Regions from separate parts of the Homo sapiens genome. Here region 1 is linked to region 2. Evidence: fine-mapped expression QTL. A gene starts in region 2. The other region holds a variant in brackets. All regions are shown on one strand. Distances are from middle to middle.

The links. PIP is the estimated chance that this variant, and not a neighbour inherited with it, causes the effect.
Region 1: its variant is fine-mapped to the expression of LMNB1 in whole blood (INTERVAL, PIP 0.99).

The regions. Positions count from the first base shown.
Region 1 is chr5:126,806,111-126,817,322 of GRCh38, reverse strand. It overlaps LMNB1 (lamin B1), which reads right to left. Exons shown (of 11, transcript NM_005573.4): 4 at 6,973-7,143; 5 at 5,425-5,550. Among named protein-coding and RNA genes, the nearest start is that of LMNB1, 35 kb to the right of the region's middle. The variant T/C (reference allele first, on the strand shown) is at 5,653.
Region 2 is chr5:126,771,124-126,782,335 of GRCh38, reverse strand. LMNB1 (lamin B1) reads right to left here and starts at 5,200. Exons shown (of 11, transcript NM_005573.4): 1 at 4,469-5,200. The coding sequence starts at 4,827. It overlaps LMNB1-DT (LMNB1 divergent transcript), which reads left to right and starts at 5,850. Exons shown (of 4, transcript NR_134485.1): 1 at 5,850-6,041. RefSeq lists enhancers at 2,061-2,150, 2,161-2,230, 3,534-3,623, 4,639-5,439 and silencers at 4,114-4,223, 4,434-4,483, 4,794-4,873, 5,074-5,723, 6,374-6,423.

The DNA of each region.
Region 1 (11,212 bases), 35 kb before region 2:
ACTGGATAATTCTAGGACTGGGGCAGGGAAAATGCAAGATGAGCCTAGAGCATGTTATAGTACCAGAAAGCAACAAAGTGCTCAAAAAACAATGGGACATAGTGGCCAAGCTGACAGAACTCCCAGTGGCCAAATATGAAACAATTTAAGCCAAAAAAGTAAATACTGCAGTATTAGCTTACAACCCAAAGTATAAAGTAAATGCCCATGGTCCATACGGACACAAACAAACAAACAAACAAACCAAACAAACGGGGAATGGATAAATCGTTACAGAAGAATGCCATTTAATAAATGTAGATTTCCCTCCAGAATGTGGCGCTTAAGTCCTGCCCTGTCCTTCACCCTTGAGGGTAGGCTGGACTTAGTGAGCTGTTTTCCATGAACAGTGTATGGGAACGGAAAAATAGTAGCGCTGTTGACAGTGGAGAAACCTGACAAACACTATCTTAAACCAAACACCACCAGTGATGTCATGTGGTTATCACATACGTGCAATCCCTGATACGATGTGACAAAACGGGCACTTAAAACCCAAAACCCCAGTCTAATCACGTGAAAAGCACCGGACAAATCCAAATTGGGGGACAGTCTACAGGATACCTGGACAATCTTACTCAAGACTCAAGCTCATAAAAAACAAGGAAAGCCCAAGAAACTGTCACAGACCAGGGGAGGCATGTGGCACCTGGAACAGAAAGAAGATAACAGAAGAACTGGTGAAATCCAAATAGTCTGGAGACGAGTTCACAGTAATATACCAATGTCAGTTTCTTAGTTTTGACAAATATACTATGGTAACATAAGATGCTAACAACAGGGGAAAATGGGTGAGAGGAAAACAAGAACTGTCTATAGTACTTTGCCAACTTTTCTGTAAATCTAAAATTATGCCAAAATAACAAGGTTATTTAAAAAATAATCAAGAGTCACTGTAAACCTATTTGGGGGCAGAGGGGGTGCCTGGTTCACACGCACACACAAAAATATATTTTTAAAGAAAAAAAATTGACCAATCAATTAATTAAATTCCAGAGTAGTATATGACTTGACATGCTATTTAGACAGGCACTCCTCTTAAGATGGATATTACAAAGGTAGTCCCTGAACCTCAGAGAACTTGCATTTAACTGCGTTTGCAAAAATCATGCTATAAATGGAGAAATCCATTTCCCCGCTACCATGTTCCTTGTATTTTCTTTTTCTCCAAAAGAAAAAAAAAAAGTCATGTAAGTTCAAAATGCCTCCCTTTATTTCATATATCAGAGGTAGAAGATATATTTGAATGGGCAAAAAGGTAGAATCTAAAGGAGAGTTGATGAGAGATATAAACTACCCAAGATTCACAGATAACCTGAGCCGAGATTTATAAACCCAATGATGTCTCTGTTTGACTGCCTTTGATGTTGTAGAGCTCTTTAAGAGGGAAAAATCAAAATCTAGGTATAAAAATTTTAAAGTTACTCTGAATCATTCTGTATTTTAAATAGAAATATTTAAATTCTATTTTCAGTAGCTGCACTTACACCTGTGTAGTGAAATATAAGGAACACAGTATGAGAAGTTAGACCTAGATTCTCCTTTCTAATTCTGCCATTGAAACTACCTATGAGGCTATAAGCAAGCTGTAACTAATCTCACTAAACCAGTTTCCACATAAGGAAAATGAAGAGCTCTAACTATCTAGATGATCTCTCAGATCTTGCCACTAACCCTAAATTTTATGACTTCTGATGATCTTGGGGTTTTTAAATATTTTATAGTATGTAATGTAATTGTACTGGTTTATTAAGGTCTAGCTGCAACCAAAGTCTCCAGAATCTGGGTGTTAGAAAAACAAAAGTTAGAGGTGTTTTTAAGTACCATACTGTACTCTTCTCTAAGGCAAGCAGACTCTAACCAACCAATTCATTTGGTCCCAAGTCAAAAATCTAGAGATGCTATAAGCAATGTAAAATTTCTAATTCCAAAACATAACACTGCTACCATCTATATATTATTTAAATATATCTTGTAAAACCAGTATTTTAAAGCCATGTCAATTTTAAGTAAAATTTAAGAAGTACTTCACTAACCTGAGTTATTTAACCAAAAGGAAATTCTTATGGCCTAATAGGCAGCATGATGAAACTGATATGACTCAGCAACAAACACTATTAAGACAAACAATAGGAAAATATTCAAAAAGATAACATTTTTATTTTTGATGATTTTTCTAAGGCTAAAATTTATCAACTAATAAAAATATTCCTCAAAATATACTGTTTACCATAAAGTCTGTTACCAATAATGAACAGAGGAAAGATTCACCCCAGAGAAATTAAAAACTATTTTGGCTAAAGGGATTGCTCGTCTCCTATCTGCTAAGGAGTTAGCTCCTGGAAACCCCCAGTGCACTGCCTAACATTACTTAAAAACCACTAAGATAAGGTTAACAAAAAAAACTTGCAGCCAGGCACAGTGGCTTACACCTGTAATCCCAGCATTTAAGGCAGCAGCTCACGCCTGTAATCCCTTCCATTTTGGGAGGCCAAGGTAGGCAGAGTACCTGAAGTCAGGAGTTTGAAACCAACCTGGCTAACATGGTGCACCCCATTTCTACTAAAAATACAAAGAATTAGCTGGGCGTGGTAGCGCGTGCCTGTAATCCCAGCTACTCAGGAGGCTGAGGCAGGAGAATCACTTGAACCTGGGAAGCAGAAGTTGCAGTGAGCTGAGATAGTGCCATTGCACTCCAGCTTGGGCAACAAAAGCAAAATTCTGTCTCAAAAAAAAAAAAAAACCAACTTGCAAAAATGGGAATTCAATTAACAGGGAAACAGCCTTGAACCTAGGTTAGAACACATAGCTACTAAGTTTCAGAGCCCACTACTACTTATTAATAACAGTCTCCTCATCCAAAGCACAGTGAAGATCAACCTCAAGAGAAGATCTGTACTAAGTAAATCAAATGGATTAGGCAGCAGCCAAAAAAATAATAATACAGTAGGAAAAAATAAAATTGAGGGATAGACAGTAACTAGTAGACAACTTACTATTAGTAAATGGAAAAGAGTAGTAAATGCCAACTCAGTACAAGAACAGAGAGGCCCATTTTTGGAAAAGTACCTGTTAAGACAGTTGATATAGGCCAGGTGCAGTGGCTCACGCCTATAATCCCAACACTTTGGGAGGCTGAGGCGGGCGGATCACCTAAGGTCAGGAGTTCAAGACCGGCCTGACCAACATGGAGAAACCCTGTCTCTACCAAAAATACAAAATTAGCAGGGTGTGGTGGTGCATGCCGGTAATCCCAGCTACTAGGGAAGCTAAGGCAGGGGAATTGCTTAAACCTGGGAGGCGGAGGTTGCAGTGAGCCGAGATTGCGCCATTGCACTACAGCCTGGGCAACAAGAACGAAATTCTGTCTCAGAAGAAAAAAAAACAACAAGAAAAACAAAGACAGTGATACAGTCTGTGTGTTTGTGTTCCCACAAATTTCATGTTTAAATCCTAACCCTCAAGGTGATGATATTAAGAGGTAGGGCCTTTGAGTGGTAATTAGATCATGAGAGGAAAGCCCTAGTGAATGGGATTCATGCCCTTATAATATAGGGCCAAGGGTGCTCATTCACCCTTTAACCATGTGAGGACACAGCAAGAAGGCACCATCTATAAATCGGGGAACAGCCCTCACCAGGCAGATATCCAATCTGCCAGTGCCTTGATCTTGGACTTCCCAGCCTCCAAAACTGTGAGAAATAATTTCTGACATATCTGTTGTTTATAAGCTACCAAGTCAATAGTAGTTTGTTATAGCAGCCCAAAAGGACTAAGACAGATGGTGCAATGGAAAAAAAGATTATCTGTTAAATTTCTAAAAGTAAATCTTCTTTGAAGAAAATGAGTTATAAAAGGAAAAACTGGGAAGGAGTAGAGAAACCCATTTATCAGTCTGCAGCCTCTGGGCAACGGGCAAATCATTAAACTCACCTAGATCTGTGGTTACATGGAATGAACTCAGAGGTGCTTCCAGCTCTGCTATTAAATGAAAATCTTCAAAACACTATCAGCACAAAATAGGTTTAAAATAATTTAAAAATTTGTGCCGTAAGTAACAAAGCACATGATAGACAGTGTAAAAGCCCCTGTGTTAACTAAATTATTTTATATCACCCCATTTTATGGGACTCATTTTCTGCTTTATTTCTAAGTTCCTGCAACAGAGGTCATCAGTTTTATAATTAGAAAAATATTTTACTAAAAATGGTAAAAAGAAAAAGGAAGGAAGAAAAGCCCAATCAAGAGTAAAATAGGCTGGGCACGGTGGCTCACGCCTGTAATCCCAGCACTCTGGGAAGCCGAGGCGGGTGGATCATGAGGTCAGGAGATCGAGACCATCCTGGCTAACACGGTGAAACCCCGTCTCTACTAAAAATACAAAAATTAGCCGGGCGTGGTGGCACGCACTTGTAGTCCCAGCTACTTGGGAGGCTGAGGCAGGAGAATGGCGTGAACCCGGGAGGCGGAGCTCACAGTGAGCCGAGATCGTACCACTGCACTCCAGCCTGGGCGACAGAGTGAGACTCCATCTCAAAAAGAAAAAAAAAAAAAAAAAAAAAAAAGTAAAATAAAGTTTATTCTCATGTGGAAAATTCAAAACAAGATTTCCTCCCTTGAGGAAAATAGAAGCGGAAGTTATTTCCAAAATAATTAAGGTGACGAGTTAATTGCTGAATCATTCTGAATGCAGTATATGGAGTATATGTACTTTGTGTCCACACTGACATCACCCTAGGCTAAAACTGATCTGAAGTAGTGTCCATGCCTGCTTAAGCAGCACCTGAAGCACACCATCACACCCTGATAGGCAGCCAGTCAACACAGCCGGCAATAATGCCATTTGTCACTTAGGCGTACCAACGAATGAATGAGTCACTAAATTCTTATCGGAATATGCAAATTAAAGCTACTTTCCTGGATCCTAATTGTTATATACTTTAAGCACTAAAGAATTTGTCTAGAAACACAAAGCATTCACCACCCACAAAGAATTTTTGCATGTTTTTCTTCATTTTGGTTTTCAAATGATATAAAAAAGGAAGGTGTTGAGAATAACTCTGTAGAGATGAAGCTGTTAGACAGGTCGGAAGATCCGGGTCCTAGGGTAAGTACAGTGAATAAACTAGCAGGCTCCTTCCTCAAGGGCAAGTCCCTTAGCTCTGTGTAATCTACTAATTAGGAACAATAGTATCTGCTCACAGGATGTTTATGCAATGCAAAATGAACGAATCTAGAAAAGTACTGTGAAGACGAAAGCACAGGATGACACCATCCTCTGTAACAAACAGAGGGAGGAGTGACATCAGCCCAAGCAAAGCAGGTAGGTGCCCGTGGTGAAGGTAGCCTTCAAGTCTAACTTCTTACAGAAAGATGATTATTTACCTCTTTCTGTAGATTAGAAAGCTGGGATGAAAGGCTCTCAATTCTCATGCGGCTTTCCATCAGTTCTTCCCTGGCACTGTTGACAGTAGAAGTATTCATCTCTGATGACAGTCTGGCATTCTCAAGCTAAAAGAAGAAGCAAAGCATAGTCAGTCTTATCTAGAACTGAAACAAAAAAGGAAGCATGATTCACCTCAAGGCATTTCAAACCTAAGTCCTGCTGGTAAC[T/C]GGTAGATGAAACACAGGAAAAGCATCATGAAGTTTGCTGATATGGTGTGAATGATGGTAATTCTGTGTGACTTTTAGAGTCACTTCCTAAATAATGAGCTTTAAGAATGCTAATATACCTAGGCCTTTACCCAAAGCTTATTACTTCAATATTTCATCTATTAAACCTTTAATGTCTAAGATAACACTGATAATAAGAAGACTGGGCAATAGCAACTTGACTGTGGTGGTGTCTGTAAGAAAAGAAACATCACATATCCCTAACCCACCAAATCCAATACAGAATGTAAACCAACAAGCAGAAAATACTAGTTTATAGATTCGTTCAAACCAGATAGAAACACTTCCTTTCAGAAGCAAAAAAAACTCCTTGAGTAAAATACAAATCCCATAACACTATTGTGTATGTGTGTCTCAGGGACATGCTCCTGTGTCTCCTCCCTGGCTCCCTGTGAGGCCACAGTCTGTGACGGATCCTTACTTTAGCTCCTTCACTGTATAGCTCAATGTGTGATATTAGATAAATGTTATACAACTGAAGTTACTGCTTATAATAAGATCTTTCACTTTCACTAACTGCTACTTCATACAATAGATAAAAAGCAACATGAACAGTTTAAAGCCATGCAATGAAAATTTTCAATAACTCTGTGACTCTAATATTCTAAGTCAACCACAAAAAAGTCTTTTTAATCAAATCATGTAACATTTAAAACACAAGGCAAAATCATTTACCAGGGAAAGCCTGTACTAGTTGGTGATTTTTATGAATTCTTGTAAGGTCAGCTAATATAAGTGGGAAGTTTCTACAATATTTTTTTAAGTGAATAATAGTGACAGAAGAAGAAATAGCAGAGACTTTCCATTTGGCCCTTATGCAAAAAAGCCGGAAGTGTGGTAGTCACAATCTATGCACAATGATGACATGAAAGTGAGATCTAATGCAGTCTGACATTCATTCATTACTAAATGGATGTTTATGTAGGACAGCATGATCAGTACTTGTTATTGGAAGAAAGTTATTTCACATGGTTTGGGTTCAACTACTATGGCATAGTACGAATGATCAATGGGACAAAAAGACAAAACCTAACCTCTAATAAAATTGCAACAACCCTACATTCTTCTAGTAATTTTTAATAACATTTAGTTTATAGAAAACTGCACTTTTTTGAAAAAATCAATTTTCTATATATTTCATGGAGACTAGGGGAATCATTTTTAAAAACTAGAACAAAATAAACATAAAGCCATGTTCATCATGGGAATTGTGAAGTAATGATTTTAAGTGTTCAAAAGAATCTTCTGAAGAGAGCTCACTTTGGCATGGTAAGTCTGCTCCAGCTCCTCCTTATACAGCCTCACTTGGGCATCATGTTGCTCTCTCATCTCATGAAGGGCTTGCGCCAGCTTGTACTCATACTCAATTTGACGCCCAGAATCCACCTCTACCAAGCGCGTTTCATGCTTCCTTCTGGTCTCGTTAATCTCCTGGGGAAAAAACAAAAAGCATAAAGCCAAGCTACTTACCATGGCTGCATTGGTACACATCTGAGTGACATCACAGCCATCTGAAGTTTTACACACGAACTTCCTCCTGTTTGTCCTCAGGCGGTCATGTGAATAAACACTTTTTTGCCTCTTAGTTTTCAGTTGAGGTTTTTGAAATGGAACTAATGACAGAAGTGGTAGCATCTCAAGCCTTAGGAACTTTCTATTCCTTTTCAGGAGCATAGCTATTTATTTTTCTGAAGCCAAGGAAAGGCCTGGATGGCCTACTAAAACTATCTGCAATCAAGGATTTATACACAGTATACTATACTAAACACTAAGCAAAAATTATTTTTCTGAATTGTTTCATTGATAATCTTAAGAACATCTCTGAAAAAACAGCACATGGAAAGTTAAACTTAACAGTTGTGATAAATTCATGTAAAGATTTATGTGAAATGAAACTATTTTCTTTTCTTTTCTTTTCTTTTCTGAGATAGAGTATCACTCTGTCGCCCAGGCTGTTGTGCAATGGTATGATCTCAGCTCACTACAACCTCCGCCTCCCGGGTTCAAGCAATTCTCCTGCATCAGCCTCCCTAGTAACTGGGATTACAGGCACATACCACCATGCCCAGCTAATTTTTGTATTTTTAGTAGAGATGAGATTTCCCCATGTTGGCCAGACTGGTCTCAAACTCCTGACCTCAGGTGATCCATCTGCCTCAGCCACTCAAGTTGCTGGGATTACAGGTGTGAACCACCTTGCCCAGCCATAAAACCATTTTCTTAGACATAATAATAGGCAGCACAAGCTAATTTACATGACTTCTTTAAAAGCCGGTATTAAGCTATCATTATCAAGTGACACAGGATCTTATTAACAATATTAGTTGACTAACTCAAATATTTATGAAAAATTTACCATTGAAGAATAGAAGTAGTTGTCATGATCCTTTCCTTTACTCTGTTTTAAGGAAGTGTCTAAATAAAATTAGAATGGAAGGCTGGGCGCGGTGGCTCACGCCTGTAATCCTAGCACTTTGGGAGGCCAAGGCAATCAGATCACCTGAGGTGAGGAGTTCAAGACCAGCCTGGCCAATATGGTAAAACCCTGTCTCTACTAAAATACAAAAATTAGTCAGCCATGATGGAGGGTGCCTGTAATCCCAGCTACTCAGGAGGCTGAGATGGGAGAATCACTTGAACCTGGGAGACGGTGGTTGCAGTGAGCCAAGATCGCACCACTGCATTCCAGCCTGGGCAGCTGAGCTGGACTCCGTCTCAAAAAAAAAAAAATAATAATTAGAATGGTAATATCTGAAGAAGCCACAAGAGGGAAGTATAACCCACCAAAGTTGCTGTTTGTGTATATTAGCGCATGTATTTTCCTTTGCATTTCTTCATCTTTCTCTTAACTACTACACAGGAGCATGCACTTGACAAAATCTGAAAAATCAGAAAAATCAGGAGGATTCTGCTATCACCTTCCCAGAGATCACATCTATTTCATGAAGCAAATAATACCTAAATCACAAAAATACTGAAGAGTGACTGCTAATGGTTTGTTCTTTGTCTACCTCCTCCTTCCTCTTTCGTCTTTCTCCTTCCTTTTTTCCCCCAACTGTTCATAATAAGGAAGTTAGATATTATTACTGAATATATATCATGAATGTAAAAAAAAAAAGTTAAGGCCAGCGTAGTGGCTCACACCTGTAATCCCAGCACTTTGGGAGGCTGAGGCGAGTGGCTCACCTGAGGCCAGGAGTTTTAGACCAGCCTGGCCAACATGGTATTACTTAGTAAAAAGTAAGGAAAAAAAAAAAAAGTTAGCCAGTTGTGAGGGTGTGAACCTGTAATCCCAGCTACTCGTGAGGCTGAGGCACAAGAATCATTTGAATCCAGGAGGCACAGGTTGCAGTGAGCCAAGACCGTACCACTGCACACCAGCCTGGGCAACAGAGTGAGACTCTGTCTCACACAAAAAAATTTTTTTTAAAGTAAAAAAGGCCAGGTGCGGTGGCTCACAACTATAATCCCAGCACTTTGGGAGGCCGAGGCAGATGGAGCACTTGAGTTCAGGAGTTCGAGACCAGCCTGGCCAATGTGGTGAAACCCTGTCTCTACTAAAAATACAAAACTTAGCCGGGCATGGTGGCACATGCCTGTAGACCCAGTTACTCCAGAGGCTGAAGCAGAAGAATCGCTTGAACCCAGGAGGTGGAGGTTGCAGTGAGCCAAGATCGTACTACTGCACTCCAGCCTGGGCGAGAGAGCAGGACTCTGTCTCCAAAAAGAGTTAAAAAAAACAAAAACAAAAACAAAACTGAAGAGGACTATCTTAACATCCATTCTCAAAAAGGCAAAGGCCAAAAATTCAAAGATGCTATGCACTCTAAAAATATTAAATTACTTTTTACTGATGCTATTTTTTATATAGAACCAGTGACCTTACAAAGAAAAAAAACCCTACTCCTGGTTGTCTACACACAACATCAGAAATAAGTAATGATAAATCACAATTTTTACAAAACAAAACAAAAATGTAAGTCAACCTCATATCAAAATATCTGCTTTAACAAAGCAACACTTAGTAACAATTATATGACAGCACTTGCTACAGTATCCAAAGAGTTTTCACACACAGTATTCCACTTTGATCCTTACCACTCATTGAAGAAAAAAATAGCAGTATTAGTATTTCATTTTAAATAAGAAACTGACACTAAGAGTTGTCCAAGGTCTGACTGCTTGTCTGGTGCACCTTGCACTAATATCTATTTTGTTTAAAGCCTGTAATTTTAAAAAATAATCAGATTTCTATTATTTTTCCTCCAACTAAAAAACTGGTTTGCTAACTGCTACAATGAATTCCTATTTGCACTGTTTTCAAAATTACACTACTTCTAAAAACATTAAGCCTAGCACATTAACAGCATGTTCTCCCCCATGAGTTGATTTCAACCCTCTACAATTTTCATGAAATATACATTCCCCTTTCCTCAATTTTATTACTTCCTTTGTTTGACAACGGTTTTGCCCCTGCCCCTTGACCACAGCAGTTAAGGCTTATAAGTGATATTTTAAGATTTCCACATGAGTGAGCCGGGCACGGTGGCTCACGCCTGTAATCCCAGCACTTTGGGAGGCTGAGGCGGGCCAATCACAAGGTCAGGAGATTGAGACCATCCTGGCTAACACGGTGGAACCTCGTCTCTATTAAAAATACAAAAAATTAGCAGGGCGTGGGTGCATGCGCCTGTAGTCCCAGCTACTAGGGGGGCTAAGGCAGGAGAATAGCTTGAACCCAGGAGGCAGAGGTTGCAGTGAGCCAAGATCATGCCACTGCATTCCAGCCTGGGCGACAGAGCGGGTCTCGTGTCTCAAAAAAAAAAAAATTTACACGCCTATAAATGCTGTGAGTAGCCGCATTTCCAGATGTGAGCCATAGGAGAAGGCCAAAGTGATGGTATGTAACCTCTGTGATTAGGTTATAGAAGACAATCTGGCTTCTGCCTTGGTAGCTGGTAGCATGTATTCATGTTCTCGTTGTGTTTCTTTCTCTCTCTCTCTCTCTTTCTCATCACTGACCCTTAGGGGGGCCATATCATGAGCAGCCCTATGAAGAAGACCATGAGGTGAGGAACTGACACGTCCTGCCCACAGCCCTGTGAAAGAGCTCAGATGCCATTCCTCCAGCCCAGGTTAAAAGCTGTACTGCAACCTCATGGGACCAAGAAACAGAACCACCCAGTTTAGCAGCTCTGAATTCTGACCTTCAGGAACTAAGAAATTAATACAAGTCTGTGGTTTTAGGTTGATGAACTTTGGAAGTAATTTGTTAGGCAGGAATAGATAACTAATGCTTAAACATGTTGACAGTAATTAGCTGCTGTGACCAAGCCTTTATAAGTTAAGATGAAGTGAGGCCGGATGTGGTGGCTCACACCTGTAATCCCAGCACTTTGGGAGGCCAAGGTGGGCGGATCACGAGGTCAGGAGATCGAGACCACCCTGGCCAATATGGTGAAATCCCGTCTCTACTAAGAATACAAAAATTAGCTGGGCG
Region 2 (11,212 bases):
TCATATCCAGTATGTGCATCATATTACCGTCTTAAATTGGAATTGCTTTAACTTCCAAAGCACATCTGGCCCCCAGGGTTTTACAGAAAAGATACGGGACCTGTATCACTGAAGGAAAATAAATGTCTGAATCCACAAAATCAGTTATTGAAGACTGATGTAAACACTTAACTTTCTGTTATATCTAGTTTTCCCGTATAGTTAACAGTGAAAATCTGAAACAAGTCAATTTCTCTGTACTTTTTGTTTAAAGTGTTGAGTGATGGCATTCATCATCATTTTTGGAAACTGTTCTCTCAAAAAAGCTTTCAGCAAAATATAATCAGTCTTGGACTGAATCAAAGTAACTGTACCTTACATATGAGGTCTGTTTTCTATGGATTCAGACACCACCTGCATGGAAACTGTTGCCAAATTCTCTTTAGACCAAGCATTTCCATGCTCTGCCTCTAAGGTATCTTGTTTGCTGAGGAACCAAAAAGAAACTAAGTAACCTGGAATCTATAATTCTCTCAAAGCTGTTTTCTTAATCTAAATCTACCTAAATGATGATTATACTTAATTACAAACACTCTAGTTCCAAATAAAAAATTAAATATAGGCCAGGCATGGTGGCTCACGCCTATAATCCCAGCACCTTGGGAGGCCGAGGTGGGTGGATCACCTGAGGTCAGGAGTTGGAGACCAGCCTGGCCAACACGGTGAAACCCCGTCTCTACTAAAAATACAAAATTAGCCGGGTGTGGTGGTGCACACCTGTAATCCCAGCTACTTGGGAGGCTGGGTCAAGAGCATCGCTTGAACCTGGGAGGCGGAGGTTGCAGTGAGCCAAGCTCCGTCTCAAAAAAAAAAGAAAGACATTAACAACCCTAGATGCCAGAAGACAATAGGGCAAAATAATACTTTCCAAGTTCTGGAAAAATGTTAACCTAGTATTCTATACCTAGCCCAAAGCTATTTTCAGACATACAGGACTCAGAAAGTTTACCTCCTGCCATCCTTTCTGAATAAATTACTTAAGGATGTTCTTCAACAAAATATGAAGAAACCAAGGAAAAGGAAAATACACCCAGGATGGAGTGCGGTGGTGTGATCTCAGCTCACTGCAACCTCCGCCTCCCCGGTTCAAGCAATGCCTCCTGCCTCAGCCTCCACAGTAACTGGGATTGCAGGCGTCCACTACCACACGCGGCTAATTTGTGTATTTTTAGTAGAGACGGGGTCTCGCCATGTTGGACAGGCTAGTCTTGAACTCCTGACTTCAGGTGATCCACCTGCCTAGGCCTCTCAAAGTGCTTTACAGGTGTGAGCCACCGTGCCTGGCCAGGAAGCTGTCTTTAATAAGTTACAGGACATCAGTACACAGCCTACCTTAAGCAAAGAGAACTCTAGGGAAGAAAGCAGATTCATGTGATAGATATTATGATTAAATATCTTCAAAAAGTCTGCAAACACACTGAGGGCAAATTTTTCTTAACAAGAAAAATGAAAAGCTATTGAGGAATAAATCCATATAAAAAAAGTCCTAATTCAAATAAGGAGCAAACTAAAATGTGGCATGTTTTGAGCAAATGATGGTATGTTGGGGGGAAAAGAAGAGTCATCTAATCCTGGCAATAGGAATATACATACAGTAGCACAGACTTAAGAAAAATATAATCCCAGAACACTACTAACCCTCAGAGAATAGGTACTGTCAACTCCTCAGACAGGCCTTCCTTAATCACACTAACCCTTCACTCCGCTTTATTTTTATTCCCTTAGCATCTGCTATTACCTAAATTGTATCACATGCATTATTTCATTGATTCTAATACACATTATTCTCATTTTTTAACCCCGCTGAAACCAGCATGCATTTTAGAATCGATACATTTACAACTACTGTCAGCCAGGTGGCAGCCTTGTTACTGTGTGAAAAACCTCCTGTGGCTAACTCCTGGAAAGATTACAAAAGCGCCAGCATCAAAATGCTTCACATCAGACAAAAGACAATCTTTCTTTACTTGCTGGGATATAGCTCCCCCACTACACTCTCAGCAACAAAGAACAGTAATTCATTTTTTTAAAAAAATCTTCATATCCTCTAACATAGAACGGTGACTGGTACGCAACAGATATTTGATCTGTGTTAATTTTTTTTTTTAGACGGAGTCTCACTCTGTCACCCAGGCTGGAGTGCAGTGGACCATCTGGCTCACTGCAGCCTCTGCCTCCTGGATATCAAGCGATTCTCCTGCCTCAGCCTCCCCAGTAGCTGGGATTACAGACGCCCGCCACCACGCCCGGATTTTTTTTCTTTTTTGAGATGGGGTCTCACTCTGTCGCCAGGCTGGGGTGCAATGGCGCAATCTCAGCTCACTGCAATATCCGCCTCCTGGGTTCAAGCGATTCTCCTGCCTCAGCCTCCCAAGTAGCTGAGACTACAGATGCATGCCACCACGTCTGGATAATTTTTTGTATTTTTAGTAGAGACGGGGTTTCACCTTGTTAGCCAGGATGGCCTCGATCTCCTGACCTCGTGATCCGCCCGCCTCGGCCTCCCAAAGTGCTGGGATTACAGGCGTGAGCCCCCGCGTCCGGCCAATTTTTGTATTTTTAGTAGAGACGGGGTTTCACCATATTGGTCAGGCTGGTCTCGAACTCCTGACCTCAAGTGATCCGCTCACCTCGCCTCCCAAAGCGCTGGGATTACAGGCGTGAGCCACCACGCCCGGCCCTGTTTGACATTTTAATATCTATGAAACCCATCATGATGGGTCCAACAGGATGGATCCTACACAGTTGGTCCTGATGTTTTTATTTTCTTAGTGGTACACATAATAATGGCAAGTCTTACAAGCAACGATATCTAAGATTTGAAGGAATTCAGTGGCAAAAAATTTGGAGGAACATAGAAATAATAGTGTGAGTTAACTGACTGCTCATTTTAAAAGATGAAACCAAGGCTTAGTAAATCCAAGAAAGGGAAATACAAGCTTAGTATTATTTTCGAGTTGTATAACTAAATATCCAAAGAAATAAAAACAAAAAGGGATAAATGTGATTGCCTCCGGAAAGAGGTAGTGCAGTTATCGTTTTTCGCTACAAACCAGTCTATACTATTTTATTCTTACCACGTGCACATGCTTTTTTATGAACCGAAAACATATGATAGGAGGGATAAGTAAAAATACACAAAATCTCAGAGACTTCGGACAGGGACATTCACGCAGATACAGACAGAAAGACATCCAGGGGCAAAGGGTGTCAAAGTGAGAATAAGGTACCTCCAGAAATTTCAGCTGGCAGTGCTAATGGCGACCATGAATTTCAGACCCAAATTTTGCAAATCTCTAAAGCATGACATCAACACTTGTTGCCTACTGATGACAGGCCATTTTGCTTATCAGAAAGTCAAAATAAGGCCAGCAAAGGTCTGCAAATGTATCCTTGTGCACTGGAATGAAAACTCGCACTCGCTTAGGTGAATTACAAACTCTCCTTCGCTCAAACACTCAGCATTTACACAGCACCCTGTCACCTGCCCTGGTCTACTATCTGCACAGTGGTCGACTAAGGGGTACTAAGCACAGTCTCTACCCGAAAGCCTGACTATACTACGAGGAGGCAAAAGCTGGGGACAGAGGGCCGCTGCCTGAGGGGTAGGAGAACCGCAATTCTAAGAACGGTAGCCGTGACATGCACAAACCCAGCTTTCCTTCCCTGCGCAGAACCACCCGAGGGACCGCACCATCCCCGCTGGGACAGGACACATTTCCCCAGAGAAAGCTAACCAGCTAGCAAACCTAACTTGCCCGGGGCTGGCTGGAGGCGCACGGATCAAGCTCCGCCTCTCTCTCCCGCCTAAAGCAGGCGTAGAATCTTCGCAAAACGTCACAGGGCCAAGACTGAGCGCGCCAAAGCGGGACCCACCCCCAGGAGACGCGGATGCTGCGGGAAGGTCCCTCCCCTTCCTCTCTCTGCCCGCGCGAAGCTCATTCATTCTAGAGGCGGGCTGCCAGTCCTCCCCGGCCGCCCATCCCGGCACTGCAAATCCGCTAGACGCTTTGTCTCGCGCCGGCCGGAAACTGGGGCGCGCACGCGAGCGCGCGCTCGCGCTCCAGCTCCCCGCACCTGGGGCCTGAGGGGCCGCCTCTCCGCGCCGGCTCCCCGGATTCGAGTGCGAAAGCGGGAGCTCCTTCTCGGCAGTCCCAGGCGCGCACTTACCACGTCCCAGCGGGTATCCAAAATCTAGAAATGGGCATCACGGCCCCCCAGCGCTACAGCTCGAGCCCCCTCCGCGACCCCTGCTCCGCTATGAACTCTAGATTCTTTCTCCTTTCCGGAGACCGAGACCCTGTTCCTTCAGAAGGACGCGTGCATCCTGGCCTCTGCTCCCTCCCCACGGCAGAACCCGGTGAGCTGGTCGCCGCGGTTGCGCCCCCGCCCCTCCTTGGCGCTAACGCGGCCGCCAGCTAGCACTCACTTGAGGAGCAGCTGGTCGTGTTCCGCCTTGCACTTGCCCAGCTCGATCTGCAGCTTGGCGCGCTCGCGGGCCGTGTCGTCGAGCGCGCGTCGCGCGTCGGCCAGCTCGGTCTCGTAGAGCGCCTTGAGGCCGGTGAGCTCACGGCCGCGCACCTCCTCGCGCTCCGTCACCTGCAGCTGCAGCGCGCTGTTCTCCGTCTCCAGGCTGCGCACCTTGTCGATGTACACCGCCAGCCGGTCATTGAGCTCGCGCAGCTCCTCCTTCTCCTGGAGCCGCGACAGGCGCGTGGGGCTCAGCGGCGTGGTGGGGCCGCCAGCGCGGCTGCCCATCCGCGGCGGCACGGGGGTCGCAGTCGCCATGGCGGGCGGCGGAGACAGCGGGGCGGCGAGGCCGCGAGCGGGACCGTGATAAGGAGGGGACGGCAGGGGGCGAAGCGGGGACCGAAGGCACAAACCGGCGACCTGCGCTCACGTCCAGACGCTGGCGTTTAGAGGAACGGAGAAGCACCTGGGATGGCGGGAGCTCGATTACAGCACAAAGGGCAAAGGCGCGCGGGGGGGAACTACGAATCAATCGATCGATCGCGAAATACCCTTTGTAAGAAAACACACACACCCACTCACACACGCACGCGGGAAAATGCAAGACGAGGGTGACTGGAGGCCCAGCAGGGTTCGCGCCGCCGCCGTCTCCTGCTCGCAGCACTTTGTTTCCTCTCAGGCTGCACGGAGCGGCGGGCGGGGGGAGGAGGGCCGGGAGGGGCGGGCTGGAGGCAAGCCGCGGGGGGCGGAGGTGGCGCGGGCCGCGGCGCCGCACTCCCCAACATGGCCGGCACGCCCCGGCGCCTCCACGTGACTACCATGGGCCAATGGGGAGCAGGCAGCGCGCTTCGGCGGTTCGGGGGCCGGGCCTGTAAATTTAAAATCTGGCCCTTGGGCAACCGTCAGCTCGGCCCTCCCGGCTGGGCGGTTCCCGGACCAGGCTCAGGGCTGTAAGGAAGGACGCCTGGGACTGCCCACCCGCGCGGCTCTGGGCCCAGGGCCCTCCCGCCGCCCCGCGGGGACCCCTTGGAGGGGCCGGGCCTGAGAAAGGCGGGAAGGAGCCCGGAGGTTTCCGGGACGGATCTGCGCCACCGCCCACACTCGGCGGTTCAGGGAAATTCAAATATAAACGTCCCTAAAAGCCACACGCGAAACTCAGAGTGTCCCCGGCCACCGCGGGCGTGGTAACCTTATCCCCCGCTCCGCTGGAGGGCTCGGGAAACGGCCTGGAGGCCGGGACGCTGTGGAATTACGTAATAGGCACTTGAGTCCGAGGTTCCAAATGCACGGCTTGCAGGTTCCAAGTACCAGCCTTTATTTTTCTCTCCGGTGGAAAACTGTATCAGGCAACTTCTTTCCATGAAAGTGAGATCTGTGCGTCTTGAAGCCGATAGATTATCACAGAAAAACCAGCAACCCTGATTTTAAATCATTTGCCAACAGTGTTAATGGGCGGTTCCTAATCCGTTTCTTAATTTAAGGGTTTGTAAAATCAAAAAACAGCTCAGAAATGATACGATTAACATATGACGGTGAGTAACTACGAGAGCAAGCTGTTTCATACTCCGTTAAAATCAGGTACATAAAAATCTGAACTTGTGAAAATTTAAGATGAAATAATTTTTTGCTTTTAAAAAGAGGCTCCCAAGATGTCACTGGCAGCTACTTCTATTAGAAAGCACATTCATCCCTTTGAAAAGTTCCTAATTTTTAGCTAACATTTATTGGGACTGAGTGCCAGCACCAGGCTTTTCATGGATTACCCATCCACACAATCTCCGTGTGATGTGGGAAACTGGATTGTTTCTATTTGAAAATTCATCCGGGCGGGCGCGGTGGCTCACGCCTATAATCCCAACACTTTGGGAGGCCGAGTGGGGGAGGATCACCTGAGCTCAGGAGTTCAAGACCAGCCTGACCAACATGGTGAAACCCCGTCTCTACAAAAATACAAAAATTAGCCGGGCATGATGGCGGGTGCCTGTAATCTCAGCTACTTGGAAGGCTGAGGTGGGAGAATCCCTTGAACCCGGAAAGGGGAAGTTGCAGTGAGCCGAGATGGCACCATTACACTCCAGCCTGGGTGACAGGGAGACCCCGTCTCAAAAAAGAAAGAAAGAAACCATCCATTTTATAGATTCACTGTCTGAAGGCTGCTCCGCAGGACTGCGTTTGACAGGTCCCAGGATTCTAATTGACTCGAGTCTGGCCCTTAGCTATACCCTAGATGACCACCTTACCACCTATTAGGAACGCTTCTGTAATTAATGGTTACTTACTTTTAAAATGGCAGAAATGGAGACCAGGATATTCTTTAACTGTTAATCAAGTCATGTACATAAGAATTAGTGAAGAGCACTGGGAGCTGCATATTCATCCCAGATGAATTTTTGGCACTCTGTGAATGATGACATTCTCCTTATTAATGGTTCTATTTCCTGTCCGGTTTCCTAAAATACTTCCTTGCTTTTTGGGGGGTGGGGGGGTGGGGGGGAGGATGGCAGGGAGACGGAGTCTTGCTCTGTCGCCCAGGCTGGAGTGCAATGGCACAATCTCAGCTCACTGCAACTTCCACCTCCCGGGTTCAAGCGATTCTCCTGCCTCAGCCTCCTGAGTAGCTGGGACCAACGCCACCATACCCGGCTAATTTTTTGTATTTTAGTAGAGACTGGGCTTCACCGTGTTGCCCAGGCTGGCCTCGAACTCCTGATCTCAGGCAATCCGCCCGCCTCGGCCTCCCAAAGTGCTAGAATTACAGGCGTGAGCCACCGCGCCTGGCCATGAAATACTTCCTTTCTTAACCTCATTGAGAAATAAAGAATCGAAAAGCTTAGACTTTAAGTATTCAAGTAATCTTAAAGGGAACTTTAAAATCTAAATTACTGATGAGAAAACCGGCCGGGTGTGGTGGCTCAGCCTGTAATCCCAGCACTTTGGGAGGCCGAGGTGGGCAGATCACTTGAGGTCGGGAGTTCCAGACCAGCCTGTCAACATAGTGAAACCCCGCCTCTACTGAAAATACAAAAATTAGCGGGGTGTGGTGGCGCGCGCCTGTAGTCCCAGCTACTCCGGAGGCTGAGGCAGGAGGCAGGAGAATCGCTTGAACCTCAGAGGCAGAGGTTGCAGTGAGCTGAGATTGCGACACTGCCTAGGCGTCAAAGCAAGACCCTATCTGCAAAAAAATAAAAAAAATTTTTTAAAGTTAAATAAAATAAATTACCGATGAGGAAATTAGACCAAAAGAAGGTGAGTGCTGGGTCCCAGGCTGTGGAACCAGGATTGGAATGTAAATCTGCTTGTTCTCACTTGGTTGTGAGACCCTTTCCACTACGACAGGTGATATAGTCAATCCATATGGTTTTATGGTTTTCATTCCTTGCTCCCCTTTACCTGTCTTTTAAAAATACTTGGTTGGGAGGCCGAGGCGGGCGGATCACGAGGTCAAGAGATGGAGACCATCCTGGCCAACATAGTGAAACCCCGTCTCTACTAAAACTACAAAAAAAAAAAAAAAAAAAAATAGCTGGGCGTGGTGGCACGTGCCTGTAGTCCCAGCTACTCGAGAGGCTGAGGCAGGCGAATGGCTTGAACCCGGGAAGCGGAGGTTGTCGTGAGCCGAGATCGCGCCACTGCACTCCAGCCTGGCGACAGAGCGAGACTCCGTCTCAAAAAAAAAAAAAAAAAATTGTCAGTTTTCTTTTAAAATTATTTCCTGTCCATTTTTTAAGTTTTAAGATTATATGTGATTCCAGCAATGATCTCTATTGCTCTCAACCCCATGAAGCTTTGTTTTTTGTTTTTGTTTTTGTTTTTTTTTTGAGACAGAGTTTCGTTCTTCTTGCCCAAGCTGGAGTGCAGTGGCGCGATGTCAGCTCACCACAACCTCCATCTCCTACCTCCTGGAGGGTTCAAGCGATTCTCCTACCTCAGCCTCCCGAGTAGCTGGGATTACAGGCCTGCGCCACCACACCGGGCTAATTTTGTATTTTTAGTAGAGACGAGGTTTCATCATGTTGGTCGGGCTGGTCTCCAACTCCTGACCTCGTGATCCACCAGCCTCAGCCTCCCAAAATGCTGGGATCGTAGGCGTGAGCCACCACGCCCGGCCTGAAGCTTTCTATTGATAGAGTTCCTCAATTTTCAGATTATTTGAAGAGGCTCACATTATACATATCCTATTATATAAAACAACTTTCTTGGAGTCAGACAATTGAGGATGTGCTACTGATAGCTGTATAACTTTAAGAAAATTATTCCGTGATTTCCTTCAAGGAAAATGGAAATGGAGCCGGGCACAGTGGCTCACGCCTGTAATCTCAGCACTTTGGGAGGCTGAGGCGGGCGGATGACGAGGTGAAGAGATCGAGACCATCCTGGCCAACACGGCGAAACCCCGTCTCTACTAAACATACAAAAAAGTTAACTGGGCATGGTGGTGCGCGCCTGTAGTCCCAGCTACTCAGGAGGCTGAGGCAGGAGAATCTCTTGAACCCAGGAGACAGAGGTTGCAGTGAGCCGAGATCGCGTCACTGCACTCCAGCCTGGCGACACAGCGAGACTCCGTCTCAAAAACAAAACAAAACAAAAAAACACATGCCGGGCTCGGTGGCTCATGCCTGTAATCCCAGCACTTTGGGAGGCTAAGGCAGGTGGATCACCTGAGGTCGGGAGTTCGAGACCAGCCTGACCAACATGGAGAAACCCCGTCTCTACTAAAAATACAAAATTAGCTGGGCGTGGTGGCGCATGCCTGTAATCCCAGCTACTTGGGAGGCTGAGGCAGGAGAATCGCTTGAACCTGGGAGGCAGAGGTTATGGTGAGCTGAGATGGCACCATTGCACTCTAGCCTGGGCAACAAGAGCAAAACTGCGTCTCAAAAAAAGAGAAGAAAGAAAAAGAAAATGGGGGCCGGACGCGGTGGCTCACGCCTGTAATCCCAGCACCTTGGGAGGCCGAGGTGGGCAGATCACCTGAGGTCGGGAGTTCGAGACCAGTCTGACCAATATGGAGAAACCCCATCTCTACTAAAAATATAAAATTAGCCGGGCGTGGTGGCACATGCCTGTAATCCCAGCTACTCAGGAGGCTGAGGCAGAAGAATCGCTTAAACCTGGGAGGTGGAGGTTGCAGTGAGCCAAGATCGTGCCATTGCACTCCAGGCTGGGCAACAAGAGCGAAACTCGTCTCATAAAAAAAAAAAAAAAAAAAGAAAGAAAGAAAGAAAAGAAAATGGGAATGGTTTTTACCTTGCACAGGATTTGTAAAGATTTAATAAAACAATATATGCAGTGTGTTAGACATACAACATGTGAAGGCTAAATAGTAACGCTTACTAATAGTAATCATGTGTTTCCATTGAAAATCAAGGAAAAAGAATGGAAAATCTTGAAGCCTTAGAATTAGGTAATTGTGGCCGGGCATAGTGGCTCACCCTTGTAATCCCAGCACTTTGGGAGGACAAGGTGGGTGGATCACTTGAGGCCAGGAGTTTGAGACCAACCTGGCCAACACAGTGAAACTCCATCTCTACTAAAAATACAAAAAATTAGCCAGGCATGGTGGTGGGCACCTGTAATCGCAGCTACTCGGGAGGCTGAGGCAGGAGAATCGTTTGATCCTGGGAGGCAGAGGTTGCAGTGGGCCGAGATAGTGCCATTGTATTCCAGCCTGGGCAACAAGAGTGAAACTCCGTAGCAAAAAAAAAAACAAAAACAAAACACACACACACAAGAATTAGACAATTGTGCACATTTTTGGTCAGCTACTTTACAAAATATACACTTTCCTTATTCTCTAGGTGTTTCCCATACCTAATGCTAAACCTGGATTATGGCCTTCTGTTCTCTCATACTAAGTTAGTCAAGCTCCCTTTATTCAAGTAATTCCTGAAATCTTATCCCTCCAAAGTTTTCCCCAATGAATTAGAAGTAACAAATTTGTAAATTTGGTGACAACACTTCTGCATTTACTAGGATAGTGGTGATTTCAAATATCCTGCCTTTGTTTTTACTATACACCTCCATTTACTTGTCAGGGCACATGTCCTGATTATTGGTTAGACCATATATATCCCCACCAAGTCTCAAAATGCCATGCCATCATTTTCCCTTGTCCATACTCCTCCTACAACTACCTCACTACATGTAAAGAACTTAATTGACATTTGTCCTACTTTATGTATGTCATTTGGATCTGGGACAGAAAAATATATGATACATAAGACATCTGGGGAGAAGGGGCCATACTAGGATGGGGTGAGAAGGAATGGGGAGGAGAGACTGAAAGCTTAGCAGTAACCCACTTTTGTCTTGGGAGAGGGGAGTGACAGCTGGCAGATAAATTGAGTATACATTGCAAACAAATAGGATAGCTAGGACTGCGACACAAAATGAAATAAAAAATTGCTAAATGGTATCTCTTCAATATATGTTTGCTGAATGGATGAATGAAGAAATAACTGAATACATGATCTTCTCCTGGAACAGATTGTTCGACTAAATATATTTTACAAACTTGATACTTTTTCCAGTTATTATAAAAGTGTAGACATCATGTTTTAGAAGGTTGAGTGACTATCCAGAATGTCTTCCAAGTCTGATTTTGATTTTCATGTTAAAAAAAAAAGCTTAGGAGTTTTAAAGTATATTTACCATCTTTAAGAGGATTCAGGTAGCACAGCCACCTGAAGTTTTTATACTGCTC